4 linked regions of the Homo sapiens genome follow. The protein of the gene in region 4 interacts with the protein of the main gene of each other region in a biochemical or structural test. Each region holds a gene or a part of one and is shown on either strand. Other genes may lie near its edges. The genes, in order: PRKN, RBX1, CTNNB1 and UBE2R2.

What was found.
Region 1: the proteins of UBE2R2 (region 4) and PRKN form a complex in vitro, tested with the Homo sapiens proteins (one study listed by BioGRID).
Region 2: the proteins of UBE2R2 (region 4) and RBX1 form a complex in vitro, tested with the Homo sapiens proteins (10 studies listed by BioGRID).
Region 3: of the proteins of UBE2R2 (region 4) and CTNNB1, one has a biochemical effect on the other in vitro, tested with the Homo sapiens proteins (one study listed by BioGRID).

Annotation. Positions count from the first base shown.
Region 1 is NC_000006.12:162,717,059-162,722,367, forward strand, and holds part of PRKN (E3 ubiquitin-protein ligase parkin), read right to left. Parts: intron 1-5,309. UniProt on the Homo sapiens protein: Functions within a multiprotein E3 ubiquitin ligase complex, catalyzing the covalent attachment of ubiquitin moieties onto substrate proteins. Substrates include SYT11 and VDAC1.
Region 2 is NC_000022.11:40,963,570-40,968,878, reverse strand, and holds part of RBX1 (E3 ubiquitin-protein ligase RBX1), read right to left. Parts: intron 4,833-5,309; coding exon 4,762-4,832; intron 1,081-4,761; coding exon 995-1,080; intron 1-994. UniProt on the Homo sapiens protein: E3 ubiquitin ligase component of multiple cullin-RING-based E3 ubiquitin-protein ligase (CRLs) complexes which mediate the ubiquitination and subsequent proteasomal degradation of target proteins, including proteins involved in cell cycle progression, signal transduction, transcription and transcription-coupled nucleotide excision repair.
Region 3 is NC_000003.12:41,227,005-41,232,313, forward strand, and holds part of CTNNB1 (catenin beta-1), read left to right. Parts: intron 1-203; coding exon 204-348; intron 349-5,309. UniProt on the Homo sapiens protein: Key downstream component of the canonical Wnt signaling pathway.
Region 4 is NC_000009.12:33,899,400-33,904,708, reverse strand, and holds part of UBE2R2 (ubiquitin-conjugating enzyme E2 R2), read right to left. Parts: intron 4,536-5,309; coding exon 4,438-4,535; intron 1-4,437. UniProt on the Homo sapiens protein: E2 ubiquitin-conjugating enzyme that accepts ubiquitin from an E1 ubiquitin-activating protein, and catalyzes its covalent attachment to other proteins by an E3 ubiquitin-protein ligase complex.

The sequences.
Region 1 (5,309 bases), on a different chromosome or scaffold from region 4:
GGTGGCTCCTGAATGTAACCCCATGTGTTCTTTTAAGAGGAAGGCAGAGCAAGATTTGATGGCAGTAAAGGAGAAGGCAATGTGACCACAGCAGCAGAGACTGGAGTGATGTGGCCAGGAGCCAAGGAATGCCAGCAGCCTCCAGAAGTGAAAGAGGAGTCTCCACAGGAGCTTCTATTAATGGAAGGGGCTAGCCCAGCGAACACCTTGATTTTAGTCCCTTTTAGTCACTTTGGGGCTGGGCACAGTGGCTCACACCTGTAATCTGACAACTTTGGGAGACTGAGGTGGGAAGATGACTTGAGCCCAAGAGTTCAAGACTAGTCTGGGCAACATAGCAAGATCCTGTCTCTACAAAAAATAAAAAATAAAAAAATTAGCCAGGCAGGTTGGCATGCACCTATAGTCCCAGCTATTCGGGAAGTTGAGCCCAGGAATTCAAGGTTGCAGTGAGCTGTGTTTGTGCCACTGCACTCCAGTCTGAGTGACAGAGGGAGATCTTGTCTCAAAAAAAAAAAAAAAAAAAAGTCATTTTGGACTTTGGGCCTCCAGAACTGTAAGAAAATAAATTTGTGTTTAAAAGTCACTAAACTTGTGGTAATTCGTTACAGCAACAACAGGAACTACACAAAAACTAATACAGTAATCTGGCCATGCCCCGATAGTGTATAATATTAAAGAAAGTGAAATTATGGTTCTAATGTTTGTTTTCCTGAAAACACTACTTTTATGACCAGAACATGAGCATAGTATGCTACCATTGAAAATTTATCTGACATAATTTGACACAAAAGTAGAATCCGTTTTAAATGTATTACCACAATGCATTTGTCCTGAAGATTGTGTTTATAACACATTGCTTTTCAGTATTTCCAAAACATTATACGCTTAACGCTGAAGATCTGAAAAACACAATCATAATAAAAGAAAACATCCCACAACCCAAAGATATAATTTGCCGGTATACTTCCTGATATTTTTACATATACAAATGGCCCCTAATGCTATCTAGTTTCCAGTTATGGTAACTAAATGGTCACATTAACACTTTTTAAAAAAGATCTTTCCCAATTATTAAGAACTCACACATATTTGTCCATCTTAGATCACTTAATCATCCTATCATCACTGTTTTAAGACAAAAAAAATCTTATTACTTCTAGGAACTTCATCTCAAATAGCATCCCCATCCCCTCTCTGACTGACTTTACCTGTATAACTTGCATTCTATTAAGCATAAGATGATTAAATTGGCTGCAAAAGCCAGAAGGGACTTTTAATGAATTTACACACTAAGAATTGTGACAACTATGTCTTGATCCAATATGAAAGTTTCTTAGATGTTGAATCTCCATTAAAAATTATTCCAGAGGCCAGGCGCGGTGGCTCATGCCTGTAATCTCAGCACTTTGGGAGGCCGAGACAGGTGGATCACGAGGTCAGGAGATCGAGACCATCCTGACTAACACGGTGATACCCCGTCTATACTAAAAATACAAAAAAAATTAGCTGGGCATGGTGGCAGGCGCCTGTAGTCCCAGCTACTCGGGAGGCTGAGGCAGGAGAATGGCGTGAACCTGGGAGGCGGAGCTTACAGTGAGCCGCGATCACGCCACTGCACTCCAGCCTGGGCAACACAGCAAGACTCCGTCTCAAAAAAAAAAAAATTTATTCCAGAACTGTCCCCCACAAAACAAAATAGAGTTCTAAAATGGGCAACAATGCCCAGAAATTGCCAGAACATAAAAAACAAGCACAGAGACTTGGTATAAAACTCAAGACACTGAGAATAAGATTATTTGGTGACTTCTTTGAAATCAAGATGATATAAAAGTCAATACCTATGTCAGAAGCTCTGCATGTAGTGAGACACGGCAGATGCCACACACACATACACACACACACACACGAGAAAGGGACAATGAATAATGGAGAAAACTCTAGAGAGGGACAAAAGGAAGAAATTCCAATTCCAATCATAGGTTGAGCATCTCACAGATTCCTAAATGAACAAGAGTGGAAAGCCCACAACAGATCTCTACGAAATATCACTCTCTGTATCATATGATTATGTCTAAATTGACTGCCCAATAAAACACATATACTTCCCATCTGATCCTATGAATTCAGACATATTCATGTAAAAACGTCTTTATATATTGTCACATGTAATTATACAAATTTGGTGAATATCAACTGGATCATGCAGTCTACATTTGTCTGTGGTCAGGAGCCCAGAGAAGCAGCACCTCAGAGAACATGACCTCACTTGTGCTTAAATCTGTACCTCTCACACTCTGGGAACTCACCAGAGAGCTATAAAGGACTTTCAGGAGAAAGGAGGTCGAATTTCAAGGGTGGAGAGAAGACCCAGGGCACAGGGAATATTATTCTTAAATCTGTCTAATTCTCCAAGGAGCAAACCTAACTTGCCCCCATCCTCTAGCTGCCCAGAGTTCATCATTCCTCAATTTTGTTTCAATGGAAAAAAAAAATTGTAATCAGGACTGGATTTGCCTGGAAGGAAAATGCAGAGCCAGAGACTACAAAGATTTCCATTGCAGACAATTCCCAATCTAGGGAATGTCTCCAGTAGGAGCTGTGGTGAAGCCTGGTCTGTTCCGGTCAGGCCACTCCTGTGATAACCCTCAGAAACATTACAACCCACAGTCAAGCCCTGTGGCAACAAGTAAGGAAGAAATTCACCTGTTGTTCAGACAACAGCTGCTCCTTTGAGCTGAAGAATGAAATATTAAATTCCAGCTTCTGAGAAAATCAAGGAATGTGGGTAAGAAAAAAATGAGGGGACAGAAAAGAGGGAGTGCAGGTAGATGTCAAAAAAAAAAAAAAAAAAAAAAAAACTAAAGGTTGACCTCAGAAACACAGATATTACAAATGTTCCTTCCTATTTCTCCATTTTATTAATACGAGCAAGTTTCAGGTGTCTACTTCCTATCATTTCATGATCTGGAAAATGGATCTACTCTGCGGGTACAATAAGCTTTAAAAATGACTACGCAGTTACAGAGGGCTTCATCACAAGATCTTATTTATGCACTGAAACTCCAAAAATATCTCACAATAGGAGTAACTGGCGTATTCAACAATTATGTAAATAAATAATAAAAAGTCTCAATCAGGACACCAATATTAACTCCCTAATCACCAATTTTCCCCCTCATTTGATGAGGGTAGGAGTAGAGATGTGCAAAATGGGTGAGGCTGCTAACTATTGAACATTCTCTCCTCCAAAGTTAAGGGCTCTCATGTGAAACTTTATGGGGGCCTCTGTTCAGGTCTTACAGTAAAAGTAAATTGGAGAGAATCATCAAGAAGCCATCAATACTCTTAAAAATACACACATCTGTCCATAGATGGTCTTTTTTTTTTTTTTTTTTTTTTTGAGACGGAGTCTCGCTCTGTCGCCCAGGCCGGACTGCGGACTGCAGTGGCGCAATCTCGGCTCACTGCAAGCTCCGCTTCCCGGGTTCACGCCATTCTCCTGCCTCAGCCTCCCGAGTAGCTGGGACTACAGGCGCCCGCCACCGCGCCCGGCTAATTTTTTGTATTTTTAGTAGAGACGGGGTTTCACCTTGTTAGCCAGGATGGTCTCGATCTCCTGACCTCATGATCCACCCGCCTCGGCCTCCCAAGGTGCTGGGATTACAGGCGTGAGCCACCGCGCCCGGCCCATAGATGGTCTTAATATGTGCCTAGGTATATGAGTCATGCAGATATCTAAGAGGAAGAAACTATTCTGCACTATTCTGGGTGACACGATATCCACAGCTCTGATGACATTGTTCTCTCCACACAGAGAAGAAACTATAAATAGAACCCTAAGCATCATGTTCCACATATCAAAGAAGGAGATACAAACTATTTTTGGAATACAAATAAAGCTTTAGTAACATGAAATAAAACACCTGTCAATAAGAGACATTAATCTATTCTACAAAAATAAGAACTTTTTAAAAAGAAATATGGCCTTTAATCAGAGATGATGTAATGACATATCAAATCAATGTCAACACCCTGAGAAAAGCCATCTCCTACTGCACAATTACCCTGCCATTCTCAGTCGAAGACTGTCCTCTATTAAACATTATCTGGACTTCTTTCCTTTGTTTTATGGAGTGAGTTTATAAACGCTTGTTCTCCGTAACTAGTGATTTCAAGTATTCTGTTTTATCTAAGAAGTACAATGAAGGTCATGAGAAGTCCTCTATTAACACTTTATCTGGACTTGCTGGCACTAGTGTAACTATTTTCTACAACGTTCTATTTCATAACTTTCTAGTACTGCCACAGACATCTTTCTAAAATACAACCTGTTCATAATGCTCTTTTGTAGATAATGGTTCAGTGACTCCTCCCTATCGCCAACTTTAAACCTACCTCCTTGACAAAGCTTATCTGGTGTGCCTGCAGCCTCACCAGATACCTTTCATTCTATTCTCTTCTCTCCCCTCCATGCCTGTCTAGAAGGCCGCCTTCACCTAGTTAACTCCTACTTGTCCTGCAGGAAAACTGGAATGGCTCCACTGGGAAACAGCTGGATCTTCCAAGCTCTATAGGCTGAGTTTTCCAGTACTTCCTTGTATAAACCTATATTATGATACCCACCTTTCAGGTTTGTAAATCTTTACTTTTCTGTACCCCTTCTAGACTATGAACAAGGACCTGATGAAGGGTAGTTACTAAAATGTTGGCTGACTCTAAAGGAGGTGCTAATTGCCTCACACTAAAAAGAGGGTAAGAGGTGACATGGAAAATTTCACATAAAGTTGGTGCCATTGGAACTGGATCTTGAGTGATGAACAGTAGTTTTGAGATGTTCAACAGAAAGAAAGGGCATTCAGATCAACGAGAATCAAATGAACAAAAGAAACATGAAAAATCACGTGTTGCAGGCATGTATGTGTGTGCTGATATGTACATACATCTTTCTAATTACTCTTCTTCTGTGGTGGTGAAGGTGCAATCTATACCACCAATATAAGCCTAATCAGCCCAACTAGGCCACAAACTTATTGGGAAGAAATGGTCATTTCTATGTACCTTCCCCACAGGCAATATATAGACAAATACAACCTATGTGTACCCATCCCTACCCAGCACCATCTAATACATATGGTATAAAGAAATGACACTGAAATAATAATCATAAATACCTATTCATTCAAGGAAAAAAGGTTTCTATTTGGTGAAAAACAGACATTTGAGTTAATCTGTTAAGAGTCCTAGGTAATTAGGAAATTACTGGGGGAAAAGAATCCTATTACTGTAATTCCTTTTAACCAAGATTC
Region 2 (5,309 bases), on a different chromosome or scaffold from region 4:
AAAATGTACAAAATGAAAAAAAAAAAAAAGGTGAATTACTGTATAGGATACTCACTTTTATGTTAACAAAAATATATATATACACACAACCATGTAAATACCGGGACATATAAGAGATAGTCAGAAAATCTCCTAAGAAGCTGTCCTGTTGCTGATGGCTAGCTCCAGCAAGCCGGAGCAGGGGCCTACAGTGGGAAATTCATATTCTGTGGTATACCCTTTCAACCATTTAAATTTTTAAAAGTTTACCAGGTCATGTTTTATTTATATAACAATAAAATCTAATCAGGATAGCCATAAATGCTATATCAGAATTAATCACTGTGAAATAAACCAGTGAAATATGATAAGTGGATACAAGTCTAGCCCAAAGCTACCTGACATTAGGTAGTCCATGGAGCCTCATTAGGATGTAATTCTGGAAATATTTAAGAGTTCATAGATTATCACATTTTCTACTTTCACAGACCGTAGAAGGTTGGGAAACCTGCCGGGCACGGTGGCTCACACCTGTAATCCCAGCACTTTGGGAGACCGAGGCAGGCAGATCAGTTGAGATCAGGAGTTCAAGACCAGCCTGGCCAACATGGTGAAACCCAATCTCTACGAAAAATACAAAAATTAGCTGTGCATGGTGGCACACACTTGTAATCCCAGCCACTTGCTAGGCTGAGGTGGGAGGATCGCTTGAATCTGGGAGGTGGACGTTGCAGTGAGCCAAGATAGCACCACTGCACTCCAGCCTGGGCAACAAAGCGAGACTCCGTCTCAAAAAAAAAAAAAAAAAAAAAAAGGTTGGGAAACCCTAGGCTGCAAATGTCTAATGTTGGCTAATCCTTTGTGCATTTTCCATATAGATAAGTCCTAGCTTAAGTAACCAAAAACTAGTTTTAAAAAAAACAAGGCATGTATCATGTCTCCATCCCCCAAGACCACGCTCCTTTCAGCCTGAGGCAAGTCAAAAAGCCCCGTCAAAACAACCAAAGATACCTACTTTTGGAATTCCCACTCTCTGTTGTCCAATGGACACACCTGTCGTGTTTTGAGCCAGCGAGAGATGCAGTGGAAGTGAAAAGCATGCTGAAAGAAAACATATATTTTATTAAAAATAACTCTATGCAGGCTCAGCCATCGAGCGACAACAGGTCCCACAGGGTAGTGGCATGGGTGACATATAGTGGGCAAGAAAAGAAAAGAAGACAACGAGAGGCAAAAGTTCAACAACTGATTATATCTTGGTTAGATGCAAGGGTATTTCCAACAAAGCATTTGTTAGAAATGTCATTACTACTAAAGGAAATCATTCAGGAAGCACAGGAGTATGTGCCAGCACTGAGCTCTCTTCTATTTAAGAGAACGTGGAATGTGGCTCCTTGGTCCCATTCAGCCTGTAAGGGGATACTTCCACTTTCTTTGGGAAAGGAGGCCCCTCATCAATGCAGATTTCAAATATCCCCATTCTGGGTCTCTAGCTTCCCTCCCACCCTCCTGCCCCTGGAGAATGCGACCTGTAGGAGCAGAGCCTTCTCCCCAGCCCTTGGTAGAGAAGTGCATGGTCACTGCCGCCCACCCAGAACTGAGACGGGCACTTCCCCAACCTCCCCACACCCAGCTCAGCTCTGGTCAAAGAAACTTTATTTCTAGATTTATTCACAGACATATTGATATTACAAGAGCTCAGTACTTCACGTGCCTTTAATGGGTGAGGGACTTTGTCTTAGGGAATGAGATAAAAGAAAATTGGGGTAAAAGGAAGTATTCTTATGAGGGACAAACGGCACACAAGCAGCCTAAAGAGCATCAAAAGGCTTATTTCATAATCAAGACAAGAAGTAAAAAGACAAGAGTATCAAGAACACTGGTAACTGACAGGGAGCTAGAAGTCTGCTTAGATTTGGGAAAAGGACAATCTGCATGCAGTTTTTTGGCGTGGGCTCATGACATGCAGATGCTAATCACAATGCTTCTGCAATGAGCACTTCTCCCCCTGCTCATGTGCGTATTAGGACAGACGCAGCAAGTGCTTCCTTCATTTCGTCTGTGATTGGTGCACTGTGGTGGGGCACGGGCAGAAATTACTCACCCTAACAAAACAACAAAAGCTTTACAAGCTTCATTTAATAACAACTGAAATCTGGTCGGTACGTCTCCCAAAGTATGTATGGAACTTAAGGGATTATATAATATGGATTATTATCTTGTGAAATGTTTTTTGACAAAGACAAAAATATAATTCAGTAACTAAGAGTGGAATCCACAGCTAGTACACTAGGGATACCCAAGAGGACAAATATTCTCTTAGAGTGACAGCCTTTTGGAAGATCCCTTTTCAGCTGACTCTTGTATAACTCACTGTGAAAAAGAGAAAGAGCAAAATTTCCAAAAGGCAGAAAGCAGAGACATTTTTCTTAACCATCAGGTGTTGGGGTCGGGCTCACCGAAGGGTATTCGACAGCTTCTCCCTCTCCCACCTCACCCACTGAGCACTTTGCAGCAGTACGGTGTCCTGGTAGAGCCCAACTAAGTCAGAGCATACCACGCGCTGGGGAAAAGGGGGCTGTAAAGGAGGTGTCAGGGAGGTGACAGCACCCCTGAACATTTACTAAGATGTATTAATGGATATATTTAGCGGTCAAAGTACAATTTACAGAAGATAAATTTATAGTACTTGACAGTTTACAGAAGATGTTGACATGTATTACCTCATTTGAGGCCTCACATCAACCCTGGCAGGCAAGCATGACAGATATTTTTATCTTCATTTTACAGACAGGAAACTGAAACCCAGACAAGTGACTTGCCTAATTCATGGAGCTGGTTTGTAGAAGACCCAGAACTAGAACCCAGGACTAATCCAGAGCCTTCTGCCACACCATGCTGGCTCTCTTCTACGGCAGGCTCTCTCAGAGAATCTCTCCTTAGCCAAATTTAAGGGGATGTTCACTCTCTTTTCTTTCCACATAAAGGAACATGGTTCTTAGTATATGTCTGTATGCCAGAAAGGGCAAAGAGCCCAATATACTTCCTTTATCCCCATGAACGATTAAAGCTCCCCCATGGCCAACATGGTCTATTGTGAGCCTGGCCAAAGGGTCCCAACAAAGATGGAAGAAGGTGTACCCGAAAGTGCGGGTAGGGGCTGGGCACGGTGGCTCACGCCTGTAATCCCAGCACTTTGGGAGGCCGAGGCTGGCAGATCGCCCCAAGGTCAGGAGTTTAAGACCAGCCTGGCCAACATGGCGAAACCCCATCTCTACTAAAAATACAAAAATTAGCTGGGTGTGGTGGTACACACCTGTAATCCCAGCTACTCGGAAGGCTGAAGCAGGACAATCACTTGAACCCAGGAGATAAAGGTTGCAGTAAGCCGGGACTGCGTCACTGCGCTCCAGCCTGGGCCACATAGTGAGACTCCGTCTCAAAAAAAAAACAAAAAACAAAAAACAAAAAAAAAAACAAAAAACCAGTGTAGGTAGGAAAAAGAGTTGCAACCCAACAGGAAAAACTACTGAGAACACCATCTACACAGTAACACCTCTACCTCAAATTTGTATTTATTTAGATTTTTTTTTTTTTGAGACAGAGTCTCACTTTGTCACCCAGGCTGGAGTGCAGTGGTGTGGTCTCGGCTCACTACAAGCTCCACCTCCCAGGTTCACGCCATTCTCCTGCCTCAGCCTCCCGAGTAGCTGGGACTACAGGCGCCTGCCACCACACCCGGCTAATTTTTTGTATTTTTAGTAGAGACGGGGTTTCACTGTGTTAGCCAGGATGTCTCCATCTGCTGACCTCATGATGCACCCGCCTCGGCCTCCCAGAGTGCTGGGATTACAGGCGTGAGCCACCGCGTCCGGCCTATTTAGATTTTTTTTAACAAGCACTTGTGCTTACTATGTGCCGGGAGTTGTTTAATCACATTTTAACATAAATCATCTAATCCGGATTACAATTTTATGTGGTCCACTATCAGCCCCATTTTATGAGGGAACCCAGGATTGGAGACGTTAAATGCCTTGCCTAACGTCACTTAGCAAGTAAGTCACAAAGACAGGGAATGGTGGTCTGACTCTAGAATCTCTTATCCCTGTGTCATGCTGGGAACTGTGAGTATTCTGTCCCCATGACACAGGAGGCCCTGACAAGACAATTTTAGCTCATGTGACTGGGACTTTACAGCTTAAAGAATGAATTTTTAACACATGCTAGAACTAACATATTTGATATTTGTTATCCTTCACAGCTGTCACACTCTTGGAAGGCCATTCAGTCCAATAAAGCTACACAAAACATTTCTGGCATAAGCCATGTTAAAAAATAATCTTATCTCAGTACATACGCCACACTTAAAACACACATACACAGAGACTTCAACACTCAATTTACTCATCAAACTTAGTTCCATTAGACACCTGGTCTTTAAAAAAGCCTGTTTCAAAGGTACAAAGTTCTACCACGAGAATATTCCAAAGGGTGCATGTAGGTTTTGAAGGCAATTCCCATAGATGAAGCCCCAAAATACTGCTAACAAAATTGGGTCCACTTTATAATTAAGACAAATAAGTGCCTCTTTGCAGTAACTGTAATTTTTACCCTGTAACAGGTGAATAGTATTATGATTTAAAATCTTTTTTACTATTTGTATACCTTTTGGGAGAAAGGTGGACTAGTCATTTTTTTCCCTAGTTATTTTCAAGACTAGCAAAGCAGGAAAAGTGGAAATATGTTTACAAGCCATGCTGACAGGTAAAGATGCTTCCTTACGTTACAGACTCCCCATGCGACAGTACACTCTTCTGAAGTAGCGGACGCCTGGTTAGCTTGACATTCTATGCCTGTGGGAACAAGAGCAACAGGATCACTGGACCTTGGGAGCAGCAACGTTTCAATCTATAGCAGCCAAAACAATTCTCAAGTGGTTAATTAGCCATAATTGTTTTTTAATGAATGTGGGAAAGGAAGAACAGAGAAGACAGAGATAACAGTATGCTTTCTGACGATTTCCTATCCTTGTTTAAAAAGAGTAACAAATGGGAAATGCACATCTCACTCCCGTTGCCCAGGCTACAGTGCAGTGGCATGAGCATGGCTCACTGCAGCCTTGACTTCCTGGGCTTAGGTGATTCTCCCTCAGCCTCCTGAGTAGCTGGGACTACAGGTGCGTGCCACCACACCAGCTAATTGTTTGTATTTTTTGTAGAGATGGAGTTTCACCATGTTGCCTAGACTGAGTTTTTTTCCTTTTGAGATGGAGTTTCCCTCTTGTTGCCCAGGCTGAAGTGCAATAGCACAATCTTGGCTCACTGCAACCT
Region 3 (5,309 bases), on a different chromosome or scaffold from region 4:
GAATTTGAGTGGAATGCTTTAAAAGGACAAGTTGGATAGGGCCCCAGTATGGGGGTCTGAGTGATGGGGTCCAGGAATACATTTAGGTCCAATGGCAAGCTGGCTGAAATTCTTGTATAATAAAATAGGTTGGTAATATGGCTCTTCTCAGACATGTGATCAAGATTCCTTGACTAACAAGATATATATATATATCTTTCTAGCTCATCATACTGGCTAGTGGTGGACCCCAAGCTTTAGTAAATATAATGAGGACCTATACTTACGAAAAACTACTGTGGACCACAAGCAGAGTGCTGAAGGTGCTATCTGTCTGCTCTAGTAATAAGCCGGCTATTGTAGAAGCTGGTAAGTATATGTATCTATTCTGAGTCTTGTGTATAGCATCTGCAGTTCTAATTAGATTACTTTTCTTAGGAAAAGGTGGTAGAACTTTAACTACTGAAAATAAATGGTCCTATTCAGTTTGCAGCCAAGATTTACATTCAGAGTACCTGTCATCTGGATTGTAGCTAAATATTTAAGGCTAGTTTAGGTAGAGTTCTTATTATCCATCAAAAATGATGGCATATGTTTTGCTTAATAAAATTTGTTTGTAATTTCAGTTTTGAGTAAACCTAAGATTTGCTAACAGAGCTGTGAATTTATAGGAGAAAAGACAAATTCTAATATAGTACAGTTTTATGTAAAGTGATTGCTTTATTAGTAGATGCTCATGAGCAGTTTTTGTTTTGTTTTAACTTTTAGGTTCCGGGTAATGTGCAGGCTTGTTATATAGGTAAATTGCATGTCACAGGGGTTTCGTGTGCAGATTATTTTGTCACCCAGGCAGTAAGTATTGTACCCAATAGGTAGTTTTTCAGTTCTTTACCTCCCACCCGTAAGTAGGCCCCAGTGTCTGTTGTTCCCTTCTTTGTGCCCGTGTGTACTCAGTGTTTACCTCCCACTTATAAGTGAGAACATGTGGTATTTGGTTTTCTATTCCTATGTTAGTTTGCTTAGGATAATGGCCTCCAGCTCCATCCATGTTGCTGAGGAAGACATCTTGGTATTTTTTTATGGCTGCTTAGTATTCCATAGTATATATGTACCACATTTTCTTTATCTAGTCTACCATTGATGGGCATTTAGGTTAATTCCATATCTTTGCTATTGTGAATAATGCTGCAGTGAACATATGCATGCATGTGTCTTTATGGTAAAAAGATTTCTTTTTCTTTGGGCATATACCTAATAATAGGATTGCTGGATTGAATGGTAATTCTGTCAGGTTTTTTGAGAAATCACCAAATTGCTTTCCACAATGGCTGAACTAATTTACTTTCCCACCAGCAGTGTATAAGCATTCTCTTTTCTCAGCAACCTCACCAGCATCTGTCATTTTTTGACTTTTTATTAGTAGCCATTCTAACTGGTGTGAGACGGTATCTCATTGTGGTTTTGATTTGCATTTCTCTAATGATCAGTGATGTCGAGCTTTTCTTCATATGTTTCTTGGCCACTTGTATGTCTTCTTTTGAAAAGTGTCTGTTCATGTCCTTTGCCCACTTTTTAATGGGGTTGTTCTTTTTTGCTTGTTAATTTAAGTTTATTGTAAACTCTGGATATTAGACCTTTGTCAGATGCATAGTTTGCCAGTACTTTCTCCCATGCCAGTACTTTCTCCCATTCTGTAGGTTGTCTGTTTACTCTGTTGATTTCTTTTGCTGCGCAGAAGCTCTTTATACTGTCCCATTTGTCAGTTTTTGTTTTTGTTGCAACTTCTCTTGGCATCTTCGTCATGAAATCTTTGCCAGGTCTTATGTCCAGAATGGTATTTCCTAGGTTATCTTGCAGAGTTTTTACAGTTTTAAGTTTTATATTTAAGTCTTTAATCCATTCTGAGTTGATTTTTGTACATCATGTAAGGATGGGGTGCAGTTTCAATCTTGGATGTGGCTAGCCAGTTATCCCAGCACCATTTATTGAATAGGGAGTCCTTTCCCCATTGCTTGTTTTTGTTTACTTGTTAGGTGTGCGGCCTAACTTCTGGGCTTTCTTTTCTGTTCCATTGGTCTCTGTGTCTGTTTGTATACCAGTACCATGCTGTGATTGTAACCTTGTATTAACAGTATAGCTTGAAGTTGGGTAAAGTGATTCCTCCAGTTTTGTTCTTTTTGCTTAGGATTGCCTTGGCTATTCAGGCTCTTTTTTGGGTTCATATGAATTTTTAAATAGTTTTTTTTTAATTATGTGAAGAATGCCATTGGTAGTTTGGTAGGAATAGCATTGAATCTGTGAATTGCTTTGGGCTGTATGGCCATTTTAACAATATTGATTCTTCCTGCCATGAAATAGAATGTTTTTTCATTTGTTGGTGTCATCTCTGATTTCTTTGAGCAGTGTTTTTTGTAATTCTCATTGTAGAGATCTTTCACCTCCCTGGTTAGTTGTATTCCTAGGTATTTTATTCTTTTTGTGGCTTTGGTAAATGGGATTGCATTCTTGATTTGGCTTGCAGCTTGGATGTTGTTGGTGTCTAGAAATGCTTCTGACTTTTGTACATTGATTTTTATATCCTGAAACTTTGCTGAAGTTTATTGGATCAAGGAGCTTTTGGGCAGAGATTATGGGGTTTTCTAGGTATAGAATCATATTGTTTGCAAACAGACTTCCTATTTGGATGCATTTTCTTTCTCTTGCCTGATTATGAGCAGTGTTTTGCCCTGATATTCTGTATTCTCAGTGAATAGATGTCGTCTAAGTATGAGAAACAATTTTTTTCTATTCTGAGTATTTTTAAGAAGGCAACTTATATGTGGTACTTTGTATATTGTGTATGTTGGCAATTGGGGAAAAGAATAGATGGTTTGTACTAGGGCCTCTTGGGTTCTGTGTGTGTGTGTGTGTGTGTGTGTGTGTGTCATGAAAACAGTTACTTTTTAGCTACCAAGCATTTTTTCTCCTTTCAGTAACCCACCTAACAACATTTACTCAGAATTTCAAAGCAAGCTTCAAATCAGTATTGAAAGAAGGAAAAATATAAAGGCATTTAATGGAAGAAAATGTTGGGAATAAAGTATAGGGCTGGCAACACTTACTTTTCTCACTTATTGAGAGTAATTTTACTTGGGAATTTATGAGAGAGAAAGACATTATGATTGCTCCAGGTAACTACTGGCAGAGGAACCATAGTCTTGGGGATAGACAAATGTGGCTGAGTTCATATAGAATGAGGGGATGGGATGTAAATTCTGTCAGCTGTTCCAGCAGTAACCTGTAATGTAGGCTAAAAATACAGATTTTGAGATTTATTTAATCAGAATCCCTGGAGTGTTAATTTTTATATCAAGATCTCATAGTGTTTTATTTGAAGTGACAGGGAGGTCTGTAGATAGCTGGACATGTATGGGACTGGAAGCTTAGGAATCTTTAAGTTCTTCCAGGTTATTCTTATGTTCATTTGTTTATTCTGAAAATAGCATCTAATGTATTTTAAGAAATGGAATAGGCACATAGTATACATTGGGTAACACAACAGATAGGGTCCCCGTGCTTAATTCTTAGTCTTGTGAAGGTGACAAAAATACTTAAAAATATGTGATCCTAAATTAGAATGAGTGTTATGGGAGAAATGACAGCAAATAGTGATGAGAATTAATGGGGAGGGGAATTGTCTAGATGAGAGGGAAAAGGTCTCCTTGAAAAGGGGATGTTAAGTGGGACTGCAGGATGAGAGGGAACCGTCTCTTGTCTATATGAGAAGTGAGGGTTAAACGTTTTCCAGGTAGAGAAAAGGAACACCATGTGCTATGTCTTAGAACCAGGGATATCCAGTCTTTTGGCTTCCCTGGGCCACATTGGAAGAAGAATAATTGTCTTGGGCTACACACCAAATACACTAATGATAGCTGATGAGCTAAAACAAAAAAAAATTGCAAAAGAATCTCATAATGTTTAAGAAAGTTTACGAATTTGTGTTGGGCTACATTCAGAGCTGTCCTAGGCCATGTGGCCCATGGGCTGCAGGTTGGACAAGCTTGCCTTAGAAGGAAAGAGATTGGTCAGGCACGGTGGCTCACGCCTGTAATTCCAGCACTTTGGGAGGCTGAGGTGGGCGGATCATGAGGTCAGGAGATCGAGACCAGCCTGGCTAACACAGTGAAACCCCATCTCTACTAAAAATACAAAAAGTTAGCCGGGCGTGGTGGCAGGCGCCTGTAGTCCCAGCTACTTGGGAGGCTGAGGCAGGAGAATGGTGTGAACCCGGGAGGCGGAGCTTGCAGTGAGCTGAGATAGCGCCACTGCACTTCAGCCTGGGCGACAGAGTGAGACTCTATCTCAAAAAAAAAAAAAAGGGAAAGAGATTGTGGAGATCCAGGTGCTGAAGAGAAGGTCTGCATAAACAGAACTTAGTAATGAGGTGGATGGCCTGGTATGAGGTTGAGGTTAGGTAAGCAGAGCCATAACATGCAGGACTTTCTAGGTTCCTATAAGATAGTTACTACTCATGGAGTTTATTCATGCTTTATTCCAGCTTTGGAGCCATAGATACAGAATACTTTGGTCAGTTTGGAAGGCTAGGTGGGATCCAAATTCTAAACGGTTCCTCAGGGTTATACTAAAGTATTTCTATTATCTTAAAAGGATGCTGAGACACTTTCGATGGTTGTTTATCAATAGCAAAGCATCACAGTGGTGTGTTTAAAATATTAATAATAGCATTGTATAGATTAACAGTTTGAATGACCAAAAGCTAGAAGACCAGACTACTGAGATGTTACAGGCTTTTAGGAATGAAATAGTTTGCTTTTAGAACTCAATAGCAAAGGGCAGATGTCTGAGATGCCTGAAAGAATCATAGAATGTAATAATATAGGAGCTAAGGGAGCAACCAAAAACGGTTTGTGGAGGGGACAACATTGGTACCATGAAGATAAATGGAACCCTCAGAAGGCATCCTTAATTTTTGAACATAATAATTTAAGAAGCTGACTTAAAGTGACTTAAAAGGTCAGTAGGTAGCTGGAAATGTATGATACTAGAATGCAAGAGAGGCAGGCTAGAGATTTGGAAGTTTCCCTCTTAGTATATAGGGGTAAGGGCAGCAGGGAAGGGGAGGTAGAGGTGCCACAGAGTCATCTGTATGGGACTTTTTTTTTTACCCTAGAACTGCTGAATCAGAATGTGTGTGTTTTAAAGTCTCTGTAGGCCATTCTGATGGACATCTGGGGTTAAAATCCATTCTCTTAGAGTTAATAGTTATGTAAAGGGAGGGAATGAAGTCTTAAAGAGGGGAAAGAAGGTAGTCATTTCACAAATACTGAGCA
Region 4 (5,309 bases):
TAGTGAACACCAGTTGGCTGATTCTCTGCATCCCTAAAATTCTTCCTTTTCAGGTTGGCTAACTCTCACTACTCACCAGATCTGATAATACAGACTGACTTAGACTCTTGAAGGTAACTGGAGTCCCTTATTCTTCAAGTTACAAAAGTGCTCCATTTGCCACTTTATGTTATAAATATGTCCATTGAGGTGCTGAACAATAGTCTTGAGTACACGTGGTTATGGAGAAGAAAACCAAATACGTGAATATGGAATCACTTTCAGATGCCAGTGAGAGGCAGCAGATAAGACTCCAAAACAGGATGAGATGAACCCTATGCCATCTCCACTGCTGTCTTACTACAGCCACCCATAAACTGGACATGGAGCCCAGAACCCTTAGACAGTTGCTGGCCCTAGATAATTTAGCAGCAGAGAGGTACAAGAAGGAAAATAGTTGCCCATTTCCACTACATCTTGTATCTTCCCTCTTAATATTTCAGTGCCATAAATGACCTGTTAGAAAATATAACAGTTTACTACTTTAAAACCTCCCTTGTCTCACAACCAAGTGAACACAGAAACAAAAGGGATAAGCGAAAGTATTCCACATCTGCTCATTAGGTAGTGCTTTCCTGACTTCCGCTCAGAGTTCTGAGCACCACCAGGTATTCCAGACAGGTGAGGTTCCAAAAAGTGTACAAAACATCCCACAGCCCCCGAAAACACCAATAAGATCAAAATGTTGAAGGACTACCCAATGATTACATAGAACTAAGTGATAAAAAGTCTAAGAAGGTAAACAATTTCCAACCCAAATACCTTGTAGAGCTGTGTGAAGATGTTAGGTGTAACTCCACATAACTAGTTGTAGTTGGGAAGCTTCTAAACAAAGCAGCATAAAAGCAGGGAAAACAATCTTGATTTGAGTATGGGGAATGTCCCTAAATTGTGGCTCAGGTGGCCTGGGGACTCAAGTGTGAGGAAACAAAATGATGCTAGTACCCAAAGTAACAAAGGCAGTTTCAGATGGGCAGATAAGTATAAAAGGAATCCTCTGCCTCCAAAAGACTGGATTACATGAGAAGTAGGCCTATTTTAAAAGAAAAAATGTTCATAATACTTTAAGCTGAGATAAGGCAAATGACATCATTTGCGTGTAAATGCAAGAGAAGTAAAGGATAAAAAGCCTGAATTCCCATGGGTGGTGGCAATACATTATCCAGCCAAGCAGCATAAAAATGCAATGAGGAAAATCTTGTTTGGGGCTTTGTATTTGAGGAAAGGGGAAGCTTATTTTCTCAAATAGGGAGAGGGTGTAAGCATTTGATTCAACGTTCAACCAGCAAAACCAAGAATCACCAGTATTATAGCTACCACTTCCTCTAATCTAGGGTTATTACTCGTCCTGAAAATCCATGCACCAGAATCATTATTAAAGTACAACTGGGGATTTTTTTGGATGCAATTTTTTCAACAAATCATCCAAAATATTTTTTAAAAACTTTTATACACATTGTCTAATTATAATGTCAAAATAATGTGCTACAATTACTTCTGAAGACGTAGCACCCTCAAACATACTCTTGAGTAATATAGAATACATAAAACTCAGACTTTTTTTTTTTTTGAGACAGCGTTTCACTCTTGTTGCCCAGGCTGGAGTGCAGTGGCACGATCCTGGCTCACCGCAACCTCCGCCTCCCAGGTTCAAGCAATTCTCCTGCCTCAGCCTCCCGAGTAGCTGGGATTACAGGCAGGTGCCACCATGCCCAGCTAATTTTGTATTTTTAGTAGAGACAGGGTTTCTTCATGTTGGTCAGGCTAGTCTTGAACTCCCGACCTCAGGTGATCTGCCCACCTTGGCCTCCCAAAGTGCTGGGATTACAGGCGTGAGCCACTGCGCCCGGCCTACAACTCAGAATTTTTAATACTAATTTAAAATTGAGTCTATCGAGATAATTCATGTATACATAATTTGCTACGTAGGACACTTTTCCCCTCAAAAAAAGAAAGCGTATTCTCAATTACAGAATATCTCAAAAACAGCTCAAAACAATTATTTTAGTTCTTTTCATGTATTTAGAACCCAAGATAAATTATGTACTACTTGAACTGGTTACGATACAGGCATCTAGCAATTATGTCTCCCTGTAGCAAAATGAAATAAATATGAGGAACTAAGAAATGTGTTTCTCTTCTAATAGATAGCAAATGACTGCTTCACATTAGACCCAAAAAATTCCTTGAAAATAATAGCTGCAACCCAAGCCAGCCAGGTAATATCCACCATTCTAGTAGGTTTACATGCATTATTCACTTAAATTCTATCAACAACCTACTGAGGTAGGTATTATTCTTGTATAGATAAGAGATTCAGAAGGCGGGTGTAGTGTGAGCACCTGTAATCCCAACACTTTGGGAGGCTGAGGCAGGGGCATCACTTGAGCCCATGGGTTTCAGACCAGCCTGGGCAACATGGTGAGACCCCATCTTTACAAAAAACTTAAAAATTAGTCCAGGTGCTTTGGGGCACACCTATAATCTGAGCATTCTGGGAGGCCAAGTGGATTGCTTGAGCCCAGTAGTTTGAGACTGGCCTGGGAAACAAAGCAAAACCCCATCTCTCTACAAAAAAAATACAAAATCTTGAGCAGACACCGTGATGCATGCCTGTGGTCCCAGCTACCCAAGAGACTAAAGTGGAAGGATTGCTCAAGCCCGGGAGGTTGAGGCTGTGCTGAGCCGTGACCGCGCCGCTTCATTCCAGCCTGGGCGACAGAGCAAGATCCTGTCTTAAAAAAAAAAAAAAAAAAAGAAATATGAGAAAAAAACATTCAGAGGGATGATGGTTGTCAAGGTGAGGTGTAAAAACACATTTATTTGAATTTAGAAAGAAAGTAACATTTTTTGTCTTAAAAAATATATTGGTAAGATATGCTGAAATCTTTAATATATCTATTTTCTCAACTCTTTCTAAATAAATTGGATGGAACAAGGTACCCAAAGGAATGAGTAACAAACATAATCAACAGTCATTTGACACATCTTGAAGAGCTTCTATTACAAGTCAGGAAGCTTCCAATTCTTCACTTTTGATAAACCTGGAGATTCTAATCAAGTTATTAGTTTTTGTATCAGTAAAAATGTTTAACAAATGATTGAATAAACAAATAAAGGGGAAGAATAGATCAATCCATGCAGAAGAATTCAAAATAATTTATATAGATACCCTGGCTTCAAGGAGGTATAGCCACCCTCTCCTTAGTTGTGGGCTATGCATATTCCTTCCAAGGAGTACAGAATGAAAAGTTCAGGAAAGAGCAACTTTACAGTGGAGAAAAGCTAAAAATATTATTTCAGGCAGGTGATGAAAGGTATCCCATCAACAGGGATAAGCCACACTGATAGTAAATACTTCAGATATGACATAATGAAAATGGCACATTACTTCTCTGGTCTTTCTCTCCCAAACCTATAACCCTAGACTAATCATGAGAAAACACATAAGAAAAATCTCAACTGGGGGACATTGCACAAAATACCTGATCAGTACCCCCCAAAATTGTCATCAAAAACAAGAAAATTTATAATCAAGAGTTGCTTAATAGCTAGGTATGGTGGCATACACCTATAGTCACAGCTACTTGGGAGGCTGAGGTGAAAGGCTCACTTGAGCCCAGGAGGTCGAGGCTGCAGTGACCTGTGATCACACCGCTGCACACCAGTCTGGGTGACGGGAAGACACTGTCTCAAAGACAAGAGACAGAGACACAGACAGAAACAGAGAGAGAGAGAGAGACAGAGACAGAGAGAGAGAGGAGTTGCCCATGAAGACATGACTATTAAATATAATGTGATGAGCAGGGCACAGTGGCTCATGCCTATAATCCCAGCGCTTTGGGAGGCCAAGTGGGGAGGACTGCTTGAGGCCAGGAGTTTGAGACCAGCTGGGCAACTTAGTGAGACCCCATCTCTACAAAAAATTTAAATACATATATGTATACACGTACATATATAGATATATATTTATATGTATGAAATATTTTGGAGCAAAACAACGACAGGTAAAAACAAAGGAAATGTGAAAGCGTATGGACTTCAGTTACTTATAATGAATTAACATTGTTTATTAACTGCAACCAATGAATGACACTAATGTTAGGTGGTAATAAAGAACCAGAGTAGAACTAGGATAAGTTAAGAGTAGGGATTCAGGCTTGAAAATCTATTCCTAAGTGAACATAGGGAAATGAGAATCATATACATTATTGTTTAGTAAATACAGCTCTTCAAAATGACGCATACATATTTCTTAAAGCTCTAGCTAAAGACAAAGAAACTGAATATAAGAAAGATGATTTTTTACATGTTAAAAGACAATACATAATTTTATTTTACTAGGAGCAAAGACAATAAGGAGATTAAGAATAACTCCAAAACCAGATTCCTCCTTACCTCACATTCTGAGTAGGATTCCACCTTTCAGAAGGCAGTTCTCCACTCTGTGGGTCATCTACAGGCGGATGAAGAATCGAAATGCATACATCTCCATTCTACAAGACACAAACATTACATTCAGTAAATACTCAAAAAGTGATGTACAAAAAGGGACATCGGTTCTAAAGTTTCCTTTATTCCTAGAAACTGTTTCTTCATCAAAGGAGAAAACAATTCTGCTTTTTATGTTCAACATCAAAGATAAATAATAATTAAGCATTTTAAAAGTATTTATTTTGACCAATCTCCAAGGTATATTTTCTAGTGAGAAGACTTACTATTCCTATAGAACAATCCTGATGAAACAAACGATCCCTATGTTTACTTAGGAACATTAAAATATAATATTTATTTCGACCAATCTCCAAGGTATATTTTCTAGTGAGAAGACTTACTATTCCTATAGTACAATCCTGATAAAAAATTGACTGGGGCTGGGCGCGGTGTCTCACGCCTGTAATCCTAGCACTTGGGAGGCCAAGGCGGGTGGACCACCTGAGGTCAGGAGTTTGAGACCAGCATGGCGAAACCCCATCTCTACCAAAAATACAAAAATTGGCTGGGCGCGGTGGCTCACGCCTGTAATCCCAGCACTTTGGGAGACCAAGGTGGGCAGATCACAAGGTCAGGAGTTCGAGACCAGCCTGAACAACATGGTGAAACCCCGTCTCTACTAAAAATACAAAAATTAGCCGGGCGTGGTAGCACTCCCCTGTAATCCCAGCTACTCAGGAGGCTGGGGCAGGAGAATCGCTTGAACCTGGGAGGTGGGGGTTGCAGGGAGCCAAGATCGCGCCAATGCACTCCATCCTGGGCAACAGAGGGAGACT